Homo sapiens: one gene and its partners. The protein of the gene in region 1 interacts with the protein of each later gene in a pairwise test. Each region holds a gene or a part of one and is shown in the gene's direction. Other genes may lie near its edges.

Region 1 (5,524 bases):
AGGTGCGTCATATGCAGGAATGGCTTGAAACAAGAGGAAGTCCTAAATCACACATCGACAAAGCAAACTTCAACAATGAAAAAGTCATCTTGAAGTTGGATTACTCAGACTTCCAAATTGTAAAATAATGGCCTGAATTTAAGTTTTCTAAGATAAACTCAGTGGTTTGGTTTTTATTATTAATAGAGATAGAACTATTGTGTGTTAATATTAGCATTAGTCAATAAGTTATTTTAATGTCAGATTTTTGAATGTTATTATATATTACCTGTATGATGGAAGGATTACCACTGTACACAAATCTAATCAATAAAAACGTTAGAACCTTCTGCTTAGAGTACTTTTAAAAAATCTTCAGTGAACTTCCTTTTGGGCGAAATGAGAGGTCTTTATTCAGTAAACATTTGTAGGAAGAGGATTTTGAGGTAATTTAAAGAGGTCTGAAAGAAAAAAAGTCTGAGTCATTTCTTTAAATGGTTTCTATGAAATGTTCTTCAAGAAATTCCATGCCTAATAAGAACAAATACCACAAGTTCAATTTGTTAGCTCTGTTCACCTTATGTTTGGATGAATTACTTCTGCTGTTGTTTCTTTTCTCTGGGTAAGGAATTCACATAAAGTTATGTTATGGGCTGAACTGTGTCCCACCAAATTCATATGTTAAAGTCTCAGTCCCCAGTACCTCAGAAAGTGACTGTATTTGGACATAGGGCCTTTAAAGAGGTGATTAAGATTAAATGAGGCTGTGAGGGTGGGCCCTAATCCAATCTGACTGGTGTTCTTATAAGAGAACATATTGGCTATAGACACGTGTGCAAAAATCAAAGACCCTGTGAAAATGGCCATCTACAAGCCAAGGAGAGAGGCCTCAGGAGAAATCGTTGCTGCCAACACCTTGATCTCAGACTTCCAGTCTCTAGAACTGAGAGGAAATAGACTTCTGCTGCTTAAGCTACTCAGTCTGAGGTATTTTGTTATGGCAGCCCTAGGTATAGTAATAATCATAAACAGTTATCAGGATTTTGCTTAATCAGCCCTAGAAGACTGGTTGGTTGGGTTTGGTTAGTCACTAAACTAGCATATATCAAATGCTTACCAGGTCTGACAAATTCGTTATAAATTCCACTTTAAATTCTCAATGAAAATGAGATAGAAAGCAAAAACTAAGGACTGGTTAACAATTCCAAAACACTTTATTCTCACAGCATTCTCAGAGTTCTGCTCTCCTTTAGTTATTTTTATAACTAAAAGCTGTGGTGGCACTGGGGAGATTCAAGTCAGTGAAGAGAGTCTTGGTGTTGTCATCTGTAAATTAAGAGTTGAGCAAAGGCCGGGTGCGGTGGCTCACGCCTGTAATCCCAACACTTTGGGAGGCCGAGGCGGGCAGATCACCTGAGGTCCGGAGTTCGAGACCAGCCTGACCAACATGGAGAAACCCCCGTCTCTACTAAAAATACAAAATTAGCCGAGTGTGGTGGCGCATGCCTGTAATCCTAGCTACTCGGGAGGCTGAGGCAGGAGAATCACTTGAACCCTGGAGGCGGAGGTTGCAGTAAGCTGAGATCGCACCACTGAATTCCAGCCTGGGCAACAAGAGCTAAACTCCGTCTCAAAAAAAAAAAAAAAAAAAAAAAGAGTTGAGTTAGACAGTTTCTCAGCCTTTTCCAGCTCCAAATGCCATAATTCTAAGATGGCAGGCTCTGGAATTATTCATTCATTCGGTGCCTACCATAGGCCAGGCACTGTTCTTGGTAACTGGGATACAGCAGTAAACAAAATATATAAACTCCTTACCTTCACATAGCTTACATTCTAGGGAGAGAAGACAATAAGTAAACACATAAAATATATATTGAATTAAACGGTAGTTAAGAGCAAAGGTGAAAATGAGAAAAAAAAGGAAAGGGAAAACACGGGAAAAAAAAATAAAAACAAAAGTAAAAGCTACGACATAGTCTTTAACACCATGCCAAAAGGGAATAAGGATTGAGACTGTAGGTACCGGTTCACTGAACCCTGGGATGCGGATCCTTGGCTGGAACAACTGGTGCGCATGCGCACTGGTGTCTCGCGGCCTGGCGCGCCCCCTCCGAAGCGCATGCTCGTGGGCACGCACGAGCCTCAAGATCCAAGGTGCGCGCGTCGGCGTCCGAGGCGGTTGGTGTCGGAGAATTTGTTAAGCGGGACTCCAGGTGACTCTGGGGGAAGCACGCGACGAAAAGATGATGCCGGGGTCTCTTCTAACACCAGAAGGGCCCTGATGATGGCTGCGCGCAGCTTTCGGAGCCGGATGCGCGAGGGCCCCGGAGGCCCGGCGGCCTGGCGGCCGGGCGGGCCCAGTTTGGGGACAAGGACGGGGCTGGCCAGGGAGGGGCTGGGCCTGGCGGGAAGGCAGCGCTGCCCCGGACTCGGCCCGCGCGGCCCTCCCAGGCCCCCGTGCCCTGGATCCAGGCCCGTGCGTCCCGTCAGTCCCAGGCGCTGGGAGGCGTCATCAGGAAATCATTGGGTTTACATTAATCGGAATACTTGTTAAACGTTTACCCGTCAGTTGCTGCCGGCTGCTTAGTGCATTAGCTTAGAAAGCAGCAGAAATTCTGCAGTTAAGAGCCCTGATTTGTCCCGAGTTTGGAAAACCGGCCCCACCGCCTGCAGGGGCCCACCCACGTGGCTCTCACTGATGGAGAAGAAGGGGAGACCTTTAATGGCACTGGAATCTTAGGGTTTGGTTTTTTTTGTTTTGTTTTTTGTTTTTGTGTTTTCACTTGCAGGAAAACTTAAAATCAAGTTCAGGCAGCCCCATGCCATCATTATTATTACCAAGGTAGTTTATGCCCATCTGTAAAGACCAAAAGAATATTAATAATGACCTTCTGGCCGGGCGCGGTGGTTCACACCTGTAATCCCAGCACTTTGGGAGGCCAAGGCGGGAGGATCACTTGAGTTCAGGAGTTCGAGACCAGGCTGGTTAACATGGTGAAACCCCATCTCTACATAAGAGACAAAAATTAGCCAGGCATGGTGGCGAGCGCCTGTAATCCCAGCTACTCGGGAGGCTAAGGCTGGAGGATTGCTTGAGCCCGGGAGGTGCAGGCTGCAGTGAGCCGAGATTGTGTCATTGCACTCCAGCCTGGGTGACAGAGTGAGACTGTTTCAAAAAAGAATAATAACGACTTTCTAAAAACATCAGAGTAATACATGAACAGGATTTAACAATCAAATGGCAAAGAAAGGTTTATATGAAAAGGAATTTTCCTGCTTTATCTTTTCCCATTCCCAGCCTCTTTCCCTGAGGTGACTATACTTAACCATAATAATAATAACCTCTTAATGCCCCCAATCTCTCTTTGATACAATTTGATTCTTAAAATTTCTTCCTATTGCTTCACCTTATTACAATGTCTTAGCAATTCATTATAAGTATTTTTCTAAAAGTCATGGTTATTGTGTAATGTATAAATGTTATGAAACTAGCTTGGACATTTTTGTCATGAATAATTTCTAGCTAATGTTCCTTAGCTGTATTTAATTTAGGCATCTGTTTTTGGTGAAGTGGTTAGAATTTCGAATACTGTGTTTACTGGTCAACTTCAAGTGTAATTATGATTTCACTTTAGGACATGTGGGATTTAGAAAGGAGCATTGAAAATTATGAAATTATGAATTTTTTTTGGATGTTAATCCATTGCACCAAGCATGAGCTGTGCCTAGAGATCAGCGGTATAACTTTGTTTTGCTTTGTTTCACAATTTGGTTTAATAAGAGTGATTTCATTTACCTCAAGTGCTATTTCTTCATAATGCTGTGTAATGCTAAAGCTTTGATTATGTGCGTGTGTGGTTTTTTTCTCCAATAGGCAATTATTTCCAGTCAGAGAAGGAAACCAGTGCCTGGCATTCTCACCATCTTTCTACCTACCATGATCAAGTGCTTGTCAGTTGAAGTACAAGCCAAATTGCGTTCTGGTTTGGCCATAAGCTCCTTGGGCCAATGTGTTGAGGAACTTGCCCTCAACAGTATTGATGCTGAAGCAAAATGTGTGGCTGTCAGGGTGAATATGGAAACCTTCCAAGTTCAAGTGATAGACAATGGATTTGGGATGGGGAGTGATGATGTAGAGAAAGTGGGAAATCGTTATTTCACCAGTAAATGCCACTCGGTACAGGACTTGGAGAATCCAAGGTTTTATGGTTTCCGAGGAGAGGCCTTGGCAAATATTGCTGACATGGCCAGTGCTGTGGAAATTTCGTCCAAGAAAAACAGGACAATGAAAACTTTTGTGAAACTGTTTCAGAGTGGAAAAGCCCTGAAAGCTTGTGAAGCTGATGTGACTAGAGCAAGCGCTGGGACTACTGTAACAGTGTATAACCTATTTTACCAGCTTCCTGTAAGGAGGAAATGCATGGACCCTAGACTGGAGTTTGAGAAGGTTAGGCAGAGAATAGAAGCTCTCTCACTCATGCACCCTTCCATTTCTTTCTCTTTGAGAAATGATGTTTCTGGTTCCATGGTTCTTCAGCTCCCTAAAACCAAAGACGTATGTTCCCGATTTTGTCAAATTTATGGATTGGGAAAGTCCCAAAAGCTAAGAGAAATAAGTTTTAAATATAAAGAGTTTGAGCTTAGTGGCTATATCAGCTCTGAAGCACATTACAACAAGAATATGCAGTTTTTGTTTGTGAACAAAAGACTAGTTTTAAGGACAAAGCTACATAAACTCATTGACTTTTTATTAAGGAAAGAAAGTATTATATGCAAGCCAAAGAATGGTCCCACCAGTAGGCAAATGAATTCAAGTCTTCGGCACCGGTCTACCCCAGAACTCTATGGCATATATGTAATTAATGTGCAGTGCCAATTCTGTGAGTATGATGTGTGCATGGAGCCAGCCAAAACTCTGATTGAATTTCAGAACTGGGACACTCTCTTGTTTTGCATTCAGGAAGGAGTGAAAATGTTTTTAAAGCAAGAAAAATTATTTGTGGAATTATCAGGTGAGGATATTAAGGAATTTAGTGAAGATAATGGTTTTAGTTTATTTGATGCTACTCTTCAGAAGCGTGTGACTTCCGATGAGAGGAGCAATTTCCAGGAAGCATGTAATAATATTTTAGATTCCTATGAGATGTTTAATTTGCAGTCAAAAGCTGTGAAAAGAAAAACTACTGCAGAAAACGTAAACACACAGAGTTCTAGGGATTCAGAAGCTACCAGAAAAAATACAAATGATGCATTTTTGTACATTTATGAATCAGGTGGTCCAGGCCATAGCAAAATGACAGAGCCATCTTTACAAAACAAAGACAGCTCTTGCTCAGAATCAAAGATGTTAGAACAAGAGACAATTGTAGCATCAGAAGCTGGAGAAAATGAGAAACATAAAAAATCTTTCCTGGAACATAGCTCTTTAGAAAATCCGTGTGGAACCAGTTTAGAAATGTTTTTAAGCCCTTTTCAGACACCATGTCACTTTGAGGAGAGTGGGCAGGATCTAGAAATATGGAAAGAAAGTACTACTGTTAATGGC
Region 2 (4,837 bases), on another chromosome or scaffold:
GTAGTCCTCTCCAGATCTCATCACATTCTATCCCTTTCTGCTTTTCAAAGGATTTATTACTATCTGAAAGTATAATCTTCATTTATAAGCTTCATGAGGACAGTAACTTTGGTCTTAATTGATGTATTCTCAGTGCTGGAACAGAGCTTAGCATGTAGTAGACCCTCAGTAGATATTTGGAGAATATAGAATGAAGGAATGAATGCATGTTCATGACAAAACCAGAAGTGCATGTATAAACATGGAAGGTTGTGTATACCAAAATGTTAGTAAGGATTATCTAGGCATGTAGGATTATCGATGGTTTTTATTTTCCTAAAATATTCTCTGATTACATTATACACATGCATATGTCTATGTATTTTATATGATTTTCAAAATTTAAATCGAAAGGAAGTGAACTAGTTTCCCCCAAAACCCCCTCTGGTTATGACACTGTGCTGCCTTGTTTCATCTTTCCCAACATATGACCCAGGTCTGAATTGATCAGTGATATTTTTCACATCCATGTTTTCCAACAGATAATGACTTCATTTACCTCATTCAGTTCATCACCAAGGCCTGCCATTTCCACCTCTTCAAATATTCCTTAATTCCGTTCCCTTCTCTCTTCCACACTCACCACTTTAGACCAAACCACCACCCTCTCTTACCCAGTCCATTCAGTAGCTTTCAAATTACTCTTCAGCTTGCCATCCCTGCCTGCCACTTAATCCATTCTCCACACAGCCATAATGATCCTAAAAGGTGAATCAAATCACATCACTCCCTCCTCAAACTCTTTCAGTGGCTGCCACTTCTGGTGCATATGGAGGAAATCCAGTGCCTTAAAAATGCCCTTAGGTTCCTGCGTGAGTTGGCCCCTTCTTACCTTTTCCTCTCGTCTGATACTGTTCTTTGCTCATTATACTCCAGCAACATGGTCTTTCAGTTTTTTGGAACCCACCGAGTTCTTTTCTCTCCTTGGGCCTTCTTACAAGCAAACTATCTTCAAGGAACTCTCCTACACCCACTCTGCTGCTCCAGTCTGATTTTTACTCAAGCTTAGTTTTCAATTTTCATGACACTTCCTCAAAGAGACCTTTCCTGTCAATCTAAATTCATTTTTCCCAGTGCACTCTCTCATGGCATCTTGTAATTGTTTTTCATAACATTTGTCCATTTGTAACTTTTATTTTAATATCTGTGACCTCCCATAGTCTGTAAGCTCCTAAAGGGGAAAAGCTATATTTTTTTCAAGCACTGTATCCCTAATTCCTAGCACAATTCCTGGTGTAAATAAATAAATAATATTTAATACTTTCATCACCATTCCTATTCAGAAAACTTCCACACCCTGAAAGATGGATACTCTCACAGTAAACCTGAATGTACAAGGTTTGAAAACAGCCTCTTGGTTTAGAGGCAGATCATTTTTCTTGGCCCAACCCAAGTGCTAAATTAGCAATGAGGGATCTTACCCACAAGGTGGCAGCACTTGCCTAGATCTTGGATATAAATTCCTAGGTGTCAAGGATACATGCCCAGTTTAATGAGAGTTTTGTGTTTGGAGATTTGGCAAAATATCAGTGCCTAAGTAGGGAAAGAGAAGAACCTGACAGTTGTAGAATTATGGGAAAAAAGCCTCTACTCTATTGCTGTGTATTCTTTATTGCCTCAAAAAATTTGAGGGGATACATTGAAGGCTTTGGAAAGGAAAAGTTATAAGATTGGGAGCTAGTAAGATCTGGTTTTGAATCCCAGATTTACCAGCTATCAGCTATACCACTGGGCAAGTTACTTGATTTCTCTGAGCTTTTGTTTCCTTTTCTGTAAAACGGGGATTATGATATCTGCCTTTCAGGATTATAATGTAATGCTTCTGTCTCATAGCAAGTGCTGAATAAATGCTAATGATTGTTCTTCTCAGTTTCTTACAAGGCCTTCCTCACTAAGGAGCTTTGAAGGATTTCTGTTAGAGAATCCTGGGGGTTCAAAGTCTAGTGCACGAGTTTAGAGCATGCTCTGCCCTAGCTATATAGGGAGCAGATGTGCTTGTCTTCTCTTTGGGTTCTGAGATTAAAATAAATTAGAAAAGAATCTACTAGCCTACCCCAAGAGAGGTACTTAGACATACATACTTCATCCTACCTGCTGTAGTCAGAAACTCTTTTGGAGTGGGTTTTCTGACTCTTACACTGATTGGGCTCTATTTTTCTATGTAGTCCACTATAAGTTGGTAGTGGGGACAGTAGCCTGTGTAGCAGAGATGTCACAGGCTTCCTGCTTCCCTCTCCCATGCCCAGAACTGGCTTCACTAGACTGCAGCACTGTTTCTCAAGGAGTCTGGATGTGACCCGGAATCTTTGTCATGGAACTCTGGAAAACATTTTACAGTACTATACGTAGAGGTGTGATTCCAAGCTTCTTAATTTTCTAGAACCTGCCAGGGTCATTTACCAGCTCAGGGTATTGACATTTGCTGTTTCCTTCCTCTCTAGAGTGCTCTTCCCTGCACCTTCACATGGCGCATACCCCACTTCAGATCTCGGCTCACATATTGTCTCCTTAGAGCTGCAGTCTGAAGTAGTCCTCTCCAGATCTTGTCACGTTCTATCCCTTTCTGCTTTTCAAAGAATTTATTACTATCTGAAAGTATAATCTTCATTTATAAGCTTCATGAGGACAGGAATTTTGGTCTTAATTGATGTATTCTCAGTGCTGGAACAGAGCTTAGCATGTAGTAGACCCTCAGTAGATATTTGGAGAATATAGAATGCATGTTCATGACAAAACCAGAAGTGCATGTATAAACATGGAAGGTTGTGTATACCAAAATGTTAGTAAGGATTATCTAGGCATGTAGGGTTATCGATGGTTTTTATTTTCCTAAAATATTCTCTGATCATATTACACACATGCATATGTTTGTGTCTTTTATGTTCTTTCAAAGTTTAAAATTATATACCACTTCCAATGAGTTGGCATTGGCTTGTGCCATGAATCTTGTTTTATATCCATACCCTAAAGAGTTGATCAGGTAGGGCTGGGTGCGATGGTTCATGCCTGTAATCCCAGCACTTTGGAAGGCCGAGGCAGGCAGGTCACAAGGTCAGGAGATTGAGACCATCCTGGCTAACACGGTGAAACCCCGTCTCTACTAAAAATATGAAAAATTAGCCGGGCGTGGTGGCGGGCACCTGTAGTCCCAGCTACTTGGGAGGCCGAGGCAGGAGAATGGTGTGAACCTGGGAGGCGGAGCTTGCAGTGAGCCGAGATTGCACCACTGCACTGCAGTCTGGGCGACACAGCGAGACTCTGTCTCAAAAAAAAAAAAAAAAAAAGAATTGATCAAGTGAGGCATCAACTGATGTGTCTTCTCTGGACCCTAAAAAAGGACAGCCATTAAAAATTTTCAAATTATGAAGTACTGGTATATATCAGTGTTATATGACTAGAACAATATAGGACCTTGAATTAAATCATCTCTTTTTCCAGACAGTGCCATGATGCCACATGTGCTGCCCTTGCTAGCACTTTTCTTTAGAGAGCTCAGTTCCCTTTAAAGATGATCCATCTTTAAACTCATCCACAGGATTTTGTAGTACGAAAACAACCAACTCTGCAGGGCCCCCAGAACACTGCCTCTTAAGGCTGGGGCTTTACCCCAGGCTCTAATGTCCCCTAACCAGGGGAGCATTTCAAAGAGAATATGGGACTTGAGATGCCAAAGAGCCCCAGATATGGATGCATATTCATTTATTCAACAAATCGTATTGAGTGCCTACTATGTGGCAGGCACTGTTCTAGGGGATATGCTGGTGAGCAAAACAGACACACACCCATGTGGAACTTGTATTCCAGTGGATGGTTTGCAGTGGTAGGCTGTCCTCCAAACACCATGCAGAGATACATGCTCATGTATACCCTCAGCCCTCAGATGTACTCTGTGCTTTAGGATTTTGGTAGTATCTCCTCAGCAGTTCTTTTCATTTCTGGTGCTCTTTAGTTCCCTTTTTATTCATATAAAGAAATTAAGATTCAGAGAAGTCAATTAACTTTCTCACAGCTACATGCAAGTGAGTGGCAGAGCTTAATCTTGAGCCTAGATCTGCTGACCTCTGTGGAGGACTCTGTTAAGCTACCTGGATTTAGATTAAGCTCAGAATTCACTTCTTTGGCTGTTGGACTATTGTAGCTCCATAGCAAATGGGGCTTTCCAGGAGTTTTATTCACATTCTTTTGTTCAGCATGCATGAAACAGAATACCTCATCTGAACTGAAGGCTATGCCATTTTAGAAAAATACAAGTATCCAGCTGGGCACGGTGGCTTGTGCCTGTAATCCCAGCACTTTGGGAGGCCAAGGCGGGTAGATCACTTGAGGCCAGGAGTTGGAGACCAGCCTGGCCAACATGGCGAAACCCCGTCTCTACTAAAAATACGAACATTAGCTGGGCTTGGTGGCGCATGCCTGTAATCCCAGCTACTCAGGAGGCTGAGGTAGGAGAATCGCTTGAACCCAGGAGGTGGAGGCTGCAGTGAGCCGAGATTGTGCTATTGCACTCCAGCCTGGGCAACAGAGCAAGACTCTGTCTTAAAAAACAAACAGGTATCCATCTCACACCTGTCAGAATGGCTGTTATTAAAAAGTCAAAAAATAACAGATGCTGGTGAGGTTGTAGAGAAAAAGGAATACTTATACACTATAGGTGGGAGTGTAAATTAGCTCAACCGTTGTGGAAGACAATGTGGTAATTCCTCAAAGACCTAAAGACAGAACTATCATTCGACCCAGCAATCCCATTACTGGGTATGTACCCAAAAGAATATAAATTGTTCTGTTATAAAGACACATG
Region 3 (4,837 bases), on another chromosome or scaffold:
GTGGGAGGAATTCTGGAGAAGAAGCAAACAAAACAAAACTGGGCACTTGATCCGAGTTTGAATGAGGGGAGGGGCTAGTCACCAGGGGAGGGGACCTTCTGTGATGGGCCACAGAGGTCCCCACACTCTGGTTCTCGAGCAGGTGAGGAGGAGGCACTCTGCTTCCCTTCCACAGGTCATCGTGGAGATGACCTGTCCTCACCTAGGCAGAGCTGGGCTGTCACTGCCTGCTGCAGGCTGAGCAATGTGATTCCTAAAGTGTCAGTGATTTATTTGTGCTTGGTTCAGCAACAGAGTTAGAGTTAGATAGTTTCTGGAACGTAGAATAAACAGAGTTTTTGTTTTGTTTTGTTATTGTTGTGTGGGAAGAAGTTTTACGATATACTATTAGAAATGGAGAAAGGCACACTCAAAATTATATCTTGGAAATTATTGCTGCGCACACTGATTTTCAATTAAAATATCCAGTGAGAGTATTTTAGGCAGCTGTTCCTATAAACTAACCAGCTACAGGGTAAAGCTTATTAAGTAGGCAGATATGAGTTAATGGTAGGAATTTGGCCAATAATATCATCTCTGAGCCATAGTGAGTGGTTGTAACAGCCTTGCCACCGGGTCACAGTCCCTTTCTCTGCCATGCAGAAGCCGTCTGACCCATCAGAGGGTCCTGCTTCCATGCTGGGGTCTCCGTGCTCCCACTCCCAGCTGAAGCTGGAGTTTCGCTTTTGTAATGCTGCAACTCTGTCTGGGCTAAGTTTGCTGCAGTAAAAAAATAACCCCTAAAATCTCAGTGGCTTAAAACAACAAAGTCCTATTTTGCATTCACGTGACACATCCACTGTGGGTTCACAGAAGACATTGGCTCACTGTGCTGACACAGGGCCCCAGGCTGACGGAGCAGCCGACATGCCAGAGGAAAAGGAGTGGGAAGTTCTAGTGGGTCCTGCTTTGACAATGAAATGCTCTGGCCCAGAGATGACACATGTCACCTCTGTTCATAAATCACTGGCCAACTCTGCTTGCATGGTCCTACACAGCCACAGGGGGCCAGGAAGTGCAATTCTATTATGCATGTGTCTGGAAGAAGAAGGAACCAAGAATCCTTGGTGATTTCTAAACATGAATGATCATCGCAGCCACCTGCTTCCTAGCCATGTGACCCTCAGCAGCATCTTGTCTTGATCCTTGGGGCACAGCTGCCGAGGTAGTGGGTACTATGGAGCAGGAGGGTCAGGAGGAGATGTGGGTGGGGAAATGGAGTCCCTTGTCCCTTCCCTGATGCAGAGAACTTGGAGGTGCTCTTCTAGCAAGGAGGAGAAAGTGAAAAGACTGTGATCTTTCAAAAACCAATTGGCCTCTCCGAACACACACTCAATAAATACTCGCTGAATGAATAAATACTCGCTGAATGCATGAAGAAGTATGTACTGTGGAGTTGGGTTTGAATTTCATCACAGCTCTACCACTTATCATCTGAGTGATCCTGGTCAGCTTGTTTAAACTCTGTGAGCCTCAGTTTTCCCATCCATAAAAAGGGGCTTATAATGCCTGCTTATATCTCTGGGTTATAGTAAAGATCTAACGAAGAAATAAGTACATATGTTTAAACAATATTTATTGAGCCCCTATTTTGTACATACAGGTGTTTTGTCAACCCAAAATCACTTAAGAATGAAAATACTTATCATTACTTCCCTATCTGGAAACTGTGGTGGAGAAAGCACACTCCTTATATTTCTCAAAGAGTAACACTTTGAGATCCTTGGAAGAAAAGTGTTATACAAATTAATCATGCTTTAATTTCCATAGGAACCTGCTCATTTGGATTAATTGATTCATAATTGGGTTCAATTATGAAATAATGTAATTCCAAATGTGATGTGAAGAAAAATAAAACCTAGAAAACTTTTGTGGATTTTTTTTTTTACTTTTTCTTTTCTTTCTTTTCTTTCTCTTTCTTTCTTTCTTTCTTTCTTTCTTTCTTTCTTTCTTTCTTTTTCTGTTCTTTTCTTTTTTTTTTTTTGACAGGGTTTCACTCTGATGTAGCCTAGGCTGGAGTGTAGTGGCACGATCTTGGCTCACTGTAACCTCTGCCTTCCAGGTTCAGTGGATCCTCCTGCCTCAGCCTCCTAAGTAGCTAGGACTACAGGCATGTGCCACCGTGCCTGACTAATTTTTCTATTTTTAATGGAGATGAGGTTTTGCCATGTTGCTCAGGCTGGTCTCGCACTCCTGGGCTCAAGCAATCGTCCTGCCTTGGCCTCCCAACATGCTGGGATTACAGGCATGAGTCACCATGCCAGCCTTTTTTCTTTCTAAAGATGCCAAACCCTTTGTTCTGGGAATAAGGTAATAAAACCCCATTATGAATCCCCATGCCAGGCCACAATGTGGTTAGCCCACAGGTGGAAACATGGTGTTGGGTTTTTAGGGCACAATGTGTGATTGTTTTTCTTACCACAACAGGAAGAGGTTATGAGGTATGTGCTACTCTTGGTTCCTAACTGAAGTGTGAAAGTGGGAATCCAGAGTGCTTTCAGTTGCTCCAACTTTGGTTATATGTATTAGAAACAAACTTCTGAGATAGAGTTGCCAGATTAAATACAGGACCTCCAGTTAAATTTGAATTTCAGATGCCTATGAATAGTTTTCAGTATAAGTATGTCCCATGCAATACTTGGGATACGATTGTGCTGAAGTGGTTTTCATTGTTTGTCTGAACTTCAAATTTAACTGGACATCCTGTATTTTTATTTGCTGTCTTGCAACTTGGTTCTGAGAGAGAGACCCGAGTTCTTCCCATTCACACTGTGTGTTGGGCAGGGCATTTGGGCCACTTGATGTTGGCTAGGTAGGTTCTCATCTTGAGAAACCAAATTTCTGATTCCCAGCTCTGTGCCGGTACTGTGCCTTTTTCCACTCAAGATCTTAAAACTTTGCCTAGGAAGAGAAGGGTCGGGAAATGGTGGGATGGGGGCTTGAGTGTTAATTTCTGAGTCTTCTTCCTGGGGTGGATTGCTTCTGTGCCATGGTCTTTGTTTCCCGTTGTAGGTGCTGACCCCATATGCTGTCTCGACTGCAATGACAAAGTATCTAAATACAAATGTGATAACCAAGACTGCTGATGAGTTTGTCAAAGAGTCATTGAATTATGTCACAATTGGAGGTGAAACCTGTGGCTGCCTTGCCCATGAAATCTTGGTAATTGATAACTTCTCCTTTTCTTGAAGCCAGGGAGGGAGGACACGCAGGTGGCCCTGGCAGGGCTGGGCTAGCTCTTCCTTGCTGCTGGAGCACTCATTGATGCGTTAATATAGCCAGGTACAAGGACTATGTGGCGAGGTGGAGAGAAGCCGGAGCCTGGGAGCTCAGCCACTAGATAACCCCGAAGTTGGCAAGTCTCATTCTTGGCTGCCTCCCTCCTCCCCTCAGAAAGTAAGGTGGCTCCCAGGAGCTGTTGGGCAGGGAAGACCAAGATATATGGCGCTTCCACGTGGGGGCTGCTGTCTTCTCTTGACCCTCTATTCCAGTCAATGTTTAGCTATCAGCCCTCCAGGCAAAAAAACAAAACAAGCACAAACCACTTTGATGTGTAGCATTTGACTTCCACGGTATAAATACTTCCAGCATGGCTGAGTTTAAGCCACGGACATGACGCTGTGTGCATGAATTGAGGAGTGCATGGTGCACAGAGGGCTCTTTTTTTAGTTTTCATTTTTATTTTACTTTAAGTTCCAGGATGCATGTGCAAAACGTGCAGGTTTGTTACATAGGTATACATGTGCCATGGTGGTTTGCTGCACCTATCAACCCGTCATCTAGGTTTTAAGCCCTGCTTGCACTAGGTATTTGTCCTAATGCTCTCTCTCCCCTTGCCCCCCACCCCCCGACAGGCCCCGGTGTGTGATGTTCCCCTCCCTGTGTCCATGTGTTCTCATTGTTCAACTCCCACTTATGAGTGAGAACATGTGGTGTTTGGTTTTCTGTGTCTGTGTTAGTTTGCTGAGAATGATCGCAGTGGGCTCTTATGAGTGAGTGCAAGCCAGCTCCAGCATGCCACAGATCCAGCATATGGCAGAAGAGGCTCTTACCACTCCTGGACTGCTTTTAAAAACAAACACAAACATGAAACAAAGGTAGACTTGAGTATTGCTCACTAATACTGAAGCAAACATAACATTGGCATAGCTCTGACTCCAGTCCCACCAAAGAAAGTTAGATGGGGTTTCCTCACTTACCCATCATCTGCCAATTTCCTCCTCTGTCTCATTGGCTTTTCTACTGCAGGAATTGGATCTCTCTCTGTCTTTCATGGATGGTAGAAGGATTCATGGCTCCATGCGCTAAAGTCTACCAAAGCATTCCTTTATCTGCTGGGACTTAAAGACTCTGGCAAGAGATATTGAACTTTCTCAATTACTTGCTATTTTTATGTAGAACCTCAACAATGTGCATAATCACCAATGTAACTCACACTACAAAGCAGACATGCAGAGAGGATATAAAGTCTTTATTTTTTCTGTTGCTGATCTGGTCTTTTTCCAGATCACCACTTGCTGCAGGAAAATTCATCGAATGTCCAATGAGTCTAAACTGAGTTTGATCTAGTCATCTCAACTGGCCATTTAGGAAATGTACTCTTAGTCTGTTATTTAGGGAGAAATGTTCATCCTTCCCTGGAGGCTCCCTTCTTCCTGCCCCTCTCACTAGGTGGCGCTGGGAGAGGATGCCCTGTGGTCCATGACGGTCCTTCCATGTGTGTGGGCTGGTGTCCTGGGTGGCTGTTCACCTTGCTGAAGTTTATGTCTGTCAAGGATGAGGGAGATGAACCTTTCTG
Region 4 (4,837 bases), on another chromosome or scaffold:
AGTGAGTTTGACAGTGGGCTGGGCACGGTGGCTCATGCCTGTAATCCCAGCACTTTGGGAGGCTGAGGTGGGTGGATCACTTGAGGTCAGGAGTTCGAGACCAGCCTGGCCAACATGGTGAAACCCTGTCTGTACTAAAAATACAAAAATTAGCTGGATGTGGTGGCATACGGCTATAGTCCCAGCTACTCAGGAGGGTGAGGCACGAGAATCGCTTGAACCTGGGAGGCGGAGGTTGCAGTGAGCCGAGATCACGCAACTGCACACCAGCCTGGACAACAGAGTGACACTGTCTCCAAAAATAAAAATAAAAATAAAAATAAAAATAATCATAAAGTGACTTTGACAGTGCAACTCTCAGGCTGGAAAGGAGAGAGCACTGCTGCTAGTGGGGTCACTGAGGGAGCTGCATTTGAGCTGGTGGGCCCTGCCAAGTCCCTCTGGCCTCCCAGATTTTGGCTGCCTTCTTCCTGCACAAGCCCCAGCCTCACAATTGGGGTCAGAAAAAGATCATGTGGAAATAGGATCGAAAGCCCAGGGACATGGGGTGGAGCTCAAAGCTCGATAGACATCTTGGTCTTTTACTCATGAAATAGGAGTGATGGGTGAAAAGAGAAGCAGCAGGAGGAGGGCTGGTGGGATGAGATGTGCTTTGCAGGCTGGAAAGGGAATGATGCCAAGAGTGGCTGAAAGACGCTGACAGGCGGGCCCGAGAAGACAGCCGGAGCTAGCTCCTGAGATAGTCAGGCCGGACCAGGCATGTGGGTTTGGATGGTTTCTAGGAGGGGCTCAGTTTTGCCCAGCCAGTCACAGCGAGTTATGTTTTGGGCAAATGCACTTGCAGGAGCTGAAGCAGTCACGGCCACTGGATCAGGGACCGTCAGTTCCCAGGCGAGCGCACATCGCCATCATGGCCAAGGGCGCGGGTGTGCCCTTACCACCCACTTTCAGAGGCTTGCTGGTGTCTTCAAAGACCCATCTTTTCCCCTTCCCACATCAAGGCTCTCGCCTTGCTCTGTGCATCCTTCCTGTGAGACGTCTCCCTCCTTTCTGTGTTCAGGGCAACCCCAGGCTATGACAACCTGCCGCTTCTGTAAGTCTAAGAAGCTAGGCTGCGTTTAGACAAGCCACTGGATTCTGGGAATTCTATAATTACTGACTTGCAGGTTGCTTAAAAATAGTGAAAACTCCAGGATCCCTGCAACTTCCATGCCCTAGGACTCCTGCCAGGGGCCCAGGGTGTCACCAAGAGAGCCCTGGCCTGGGAGTCATAGGCAGGGTCTCGCCTCCACCCTCTGCCTGGGAGTCATAGGCAGCGTCTCACTTCTACCCTCTGCCTGTGTGGAGAAGTCCACAGGAGTCTTGGGTCTGAGTTTTCTCCTCTATGAAATGAGGCAGAGGGGCCGGTTGATGCTTTGTTTCTTTTAGGGTCTTTTTAGTTATAAAGCCATAAACCCCTTGGCTTGGCTCGCAACTCAGGCTACCCCCGACCCAGGCTTCCTTGCTTGCTGGGTCTCTCTATTGATTCGTTTAACCCGTGTGTTTGGGGGCCAACACTGGTTCTTTCTGGGCAAAACCAAAAACACCCGCAAACTTTTTATGTAAAAAGCACTGAGACACATACTGCAATAAACAGATATCTACTATATCTGTAGTATTAAAAATATTTCATGGGGGAGTATGGTTGAGGAAAAAATGTTCTAAAAAGCTCCCTAGGGGAATCATAATGAAAACAAAGTTAAGAAACACTGATTTAACCACAAAAGTGTGCAGGGCACCATGACAGGTTCGAGGTGAAGAGGCAGATGATAGTATCTCCTCCTCTCTAGGGTCTGTCCAGACCTTCCTGCCTTGTTCTCCCAAGCTGATGTCCTCCTTCCTTTCTTCTAAAAATATATATATTTTTAGACGGAATCTTGCTCTGTCGCCCAGGCTGGAGTGCAGTGGTGCGATCTCGGCTCACTGCAAGCTCCACCTCCCGGGTTCACGCCATTCTCCTGCCTCAGCATCCTGAATAGCTGGGACTACAGGCGCCCGCCACCACACCCGGCTAATTTTTTGTATTTTTTTTTTTTTTTTTTTTTTTTGAGACGGAGTCTCGCTCTGTCGCCCAGGCTGGCATGCAGTGGCACGATCTCGGCTCACTGCAAGCTCCGCCTCCTGGGTTCACGCCATTCTCCTGCCTCAGCCTCCCAAGTAGCTGGGACTACAGGCACCCACCACCACACCCGGCTACTTTTTTGTATTTTTTAATAGAGACGGGGTTTCACCATGTTAGCCAGGATGGTCTCGATCCCCTGACCTCATGATCCACCCGCCTCAGCCTCCCAAAGTGCTGGGATTACAGGCGTGAGCCACCACGCCCGGCCCTTTTTTAAAAAAATTATTATTATACTTTAAGTTCTGGGATACACATGCAGAATGCGTAGGTTTGTTACATAGGTATAAACATGCCATGGTGGTTTGCTGCACCCATCAATCTGTCATCTACATTAGGTATTTCTCCTAATGCTCTCCCTCCCCTAGTCCCCAGCTCCCTGAGAGGCCCCAGTGTGTGATGTTCCCCTCCCTGTGTCTATGTGTTCTCATTGTTCAACTCCCATTTATGAGTGAGAACATGTGGTGTTTGGTTTTCTGTTCCTGTATTAGTTTGCTGAGAATGATGGATTCCAGCTTCATCCATGTCCCTGCAAAGGACATGAACTCTTTCTTCTAAATCTTACCGAACACTCACTTTTGGTGGGTTTATGGACTCATCTACATGTTCTGGTGGTCATGGCTTATTTTTTGTGGCTTTTGTTCCCTGTAGCTATGGCATTGCTGGTTCTACCAACGTGACAGGTGATCAAGTTAAGAAGCTGGACGTCCTCTCCAACGACCTGGTTATGAACATGTTAAAGTCATCCTTTGCCACGTGTGTTCTCGTGTCAGAAGAAGATAAACACGCCATCATAGTGGAACCGGAGAAAAGGGTGGGTCTGTACTTCCACCATTGAGGGTTTTAATGTAGCCGGTCTTCTTCCCAGCTTCATAATTGACTCCACTTGTTCAGCTGAGCTGGGTTTCTGGGAGTCCCTCTAGATCCCTGCTGTGGTCTTTTCATAGCTTCCACCTCACTGCTGCCATCTCTCGAATCCTCCCTGAGCCACTGTGCAGATGAGTGTTGTGGCTCACGCCGCCTTCTCCCCAGTGGACTCCCACAAACTCATCTCCATTTCTAACTTTTTATTGCCATGTTTAAGGCTCTTCAAACCCTGGCTTCTGTTGGTCACCTCTTGTACTACATCCCTATCCACCAAATTCCTGACCTTCACACTGACCCTCCTGTTGACCTAGACTGCTTGAAACTTCCATCCCTGATGCACGCATTGGAGTCCCTATTGGTCTGTCTCTGCTTCTTTTTTTTTTTTTTTTTTTTTTTTTTTTGAGACAGTGTTTTGCTCTTGTTGCCCAGTCTGGTGTACAGTGGTGTGATCTTGGCTCACTGCAACCTCCGCCTCCTGGGTTCAAGCGATTCTCCTGCCTCAGCCTCCTGAGTAGCTGGGATTACAGGTTCCCGCCACCACACCTGGCTAATTTTTGTATTTTTAGTGGAGATGAGGTTTCACCATGTTGGCCAGGCTGGCCTTGAACTCCTGACCTCAAGTGACCCGCCCACCTTGGCCTCCCAAAGTGCTGGGATTACAGGTGTGAGCCACCACACCTGGCGTTATCTCTGCTTTTTGAGAGCAGAAAATGAATCTTATTTGTCTCTGTGTCCCAGTGTCTAGTGCAATGCCTGGCACATTGGAGGGCCTCAACAACAAATGACTGTTGAAAAAGATTGTTAAATGAAAGAGTATTCCCAGCTTTTATAAAACAACAATTGTAATTAGAAAAAAAAACTTCTGAGATTAGAAGTGCAGTTATATGGGCTTACTATCTTTCCCAGTTTGAGAGGAACTGGGAACATGAAGGAGTAGAATTAGGAAAAAACAATGAGAAGATGAAGAGGCTGCCTGTCCTCACCCTATTAAGAGGGCAGGAGCCACATCTGATGAAGTTGTTTTTCATCATTCCTAAAATAGCCGTACATGCCAGACTTGAAGTTCATGTTTTTCTCAGCTGGGCCTTTCAAGGTCTTTGGCAGCTTTAGGCGTATGGCTTAGATTTGTTGTTTAATATTCTCCATCACTCACGCCGGACTTCTCTTGTCTATCATGGGCCTTCATGATAGGCAGCTTCCTGTGTTCCAGTTTCCAGTTCCTCCTGCATTAGTGAGGGTGGTCTGTGAAGAGCAAGAGGGCAGGGAATCATGTTAATCTGCTACAGACATTTAAAAACGACATTGTAAAGTGGCTAATTTGGAGATGGAAAACTCCCAGTGATGTGCTGGTAAACTGGGTCTCAAAGCAAACAAACAAGTCTCTGATATGTCCACTTGCCTCTGTCAATGGTGTGAATACTCTCCCATCGTTGATTTTAAGCTACCAATGTGATATCACTGAAGGCAGAGTTGGGAAGAGATGTGCACCGTTAGCTCCTGAGAGCCGATACCAGCCAGCTCCTGCACACCACTGAAAATCCCACTCAAAACAGGAATCTGCGGTATTCCCACTACCACTGAAAGTTATCTACTTTGGGAATTACGCTAGAAATTTGTTTTGTTTAGTTTTGTTTTTAGAGACAGGGCCTCATTCTGTCACCCAGACTGGAGTGCACAGTCATGGCTCACTGCAGCCTCGAACTCCTGGCTCAAGTGATACCTCCTGTCTCAGCCTCCTGAGTAGCTGGGACTACAGATGTGCAGCATCATGCCCAGCTAATTGAATTTTTTTTTTTTTTTTTTTTTTTTTTT

The links. The genes of interacting proteins can lie anywhere in the genome.
Region 2: the proteins of MLH3 (region 1) and TSTD2 interact in a two-hybrid assay, tested with the Homo sapiens proteins (one large-scale study listed by BioGRID and IntAct).
Region 3: the proteins of MLH3 (region 1) and HSD17B3 interact in a two-hybrid assay, tested with the Homo sapiens proteins (one large-scale study listed by BioGRID and IntAct).
Region 4: the proteins of MLH3 (region 1) and FBP1 interact in a two-hybrid assay, tested with the Homo sapiens proteins (one large-scale study listed by BioGRID and IntAct).

The regions. Positions count from the first base shown.
Region 1 is NC_000014.9:75,048,048-75,053,571, reverse strand, and holds the start of MLH3 (DNA mismatch repair protein Mlh3), read left to right. Parts: upstream 1-2,104; 5' UTR 2,105-2,192; intron 2,193-3,853; 5' UTR 3,854-3,916; coding exon 3,917-5,524. Other genes in the region: ACYP1 (acylphosphatase-1 isoform c precursor), read left to right, coding at 1-128. UniProt on the Homo sapiens protein: Probably involved in the repair of mismatches in DNA.
Region 2 is NC_000009.12:97,612,314-97,617,150, reverse strand, and holds part of TSTD2 (thiosulfate sulfurtransferase/rhodanese-like domain-containing protein 2), read left to right. Parts: intron 1-4,837.
Region 3 is NC_000009.12:96,239,122-96,243,958, reverse strand, and holds part of HSD17B3 (17-beta-hydroxysteroid dehydrogenase type 3), read left to right. Parts: intron 1-3,051; coding exon 3,052-3,201; intron 3,202-4,837. UniProt on the Homo sapiens protein: Catalyzes the conversion of 17-oxosteroids to 17beta-hydroxysteroids. Favors the reduction of androstenedione to testosterone. Testosterone is the key androgen driving male development and function. Uses NADPH while the two other EDH17B enzymes use NADH.
Region 4 is NC_000009.12:94,618,464-94,623,300, reverse strand, and holds part of FBP1 (fructose-1,6-bisphosphatase 1), read left to right. Parts: intron 1-2,809; coding exon 2,810-2,972; intron 2,973-4,837. UniProt on the Homo sapiens protein: Catalyzes the hydrolysis of fructose 1,6-bisphosphate to fructose 6-phosphate in the presence of divalent cations, acting as a rate-limiting enzyme in gluconeogenesis. Plays a role in regulating glucose sensing and insulin secretion of pancreatic beta-cells.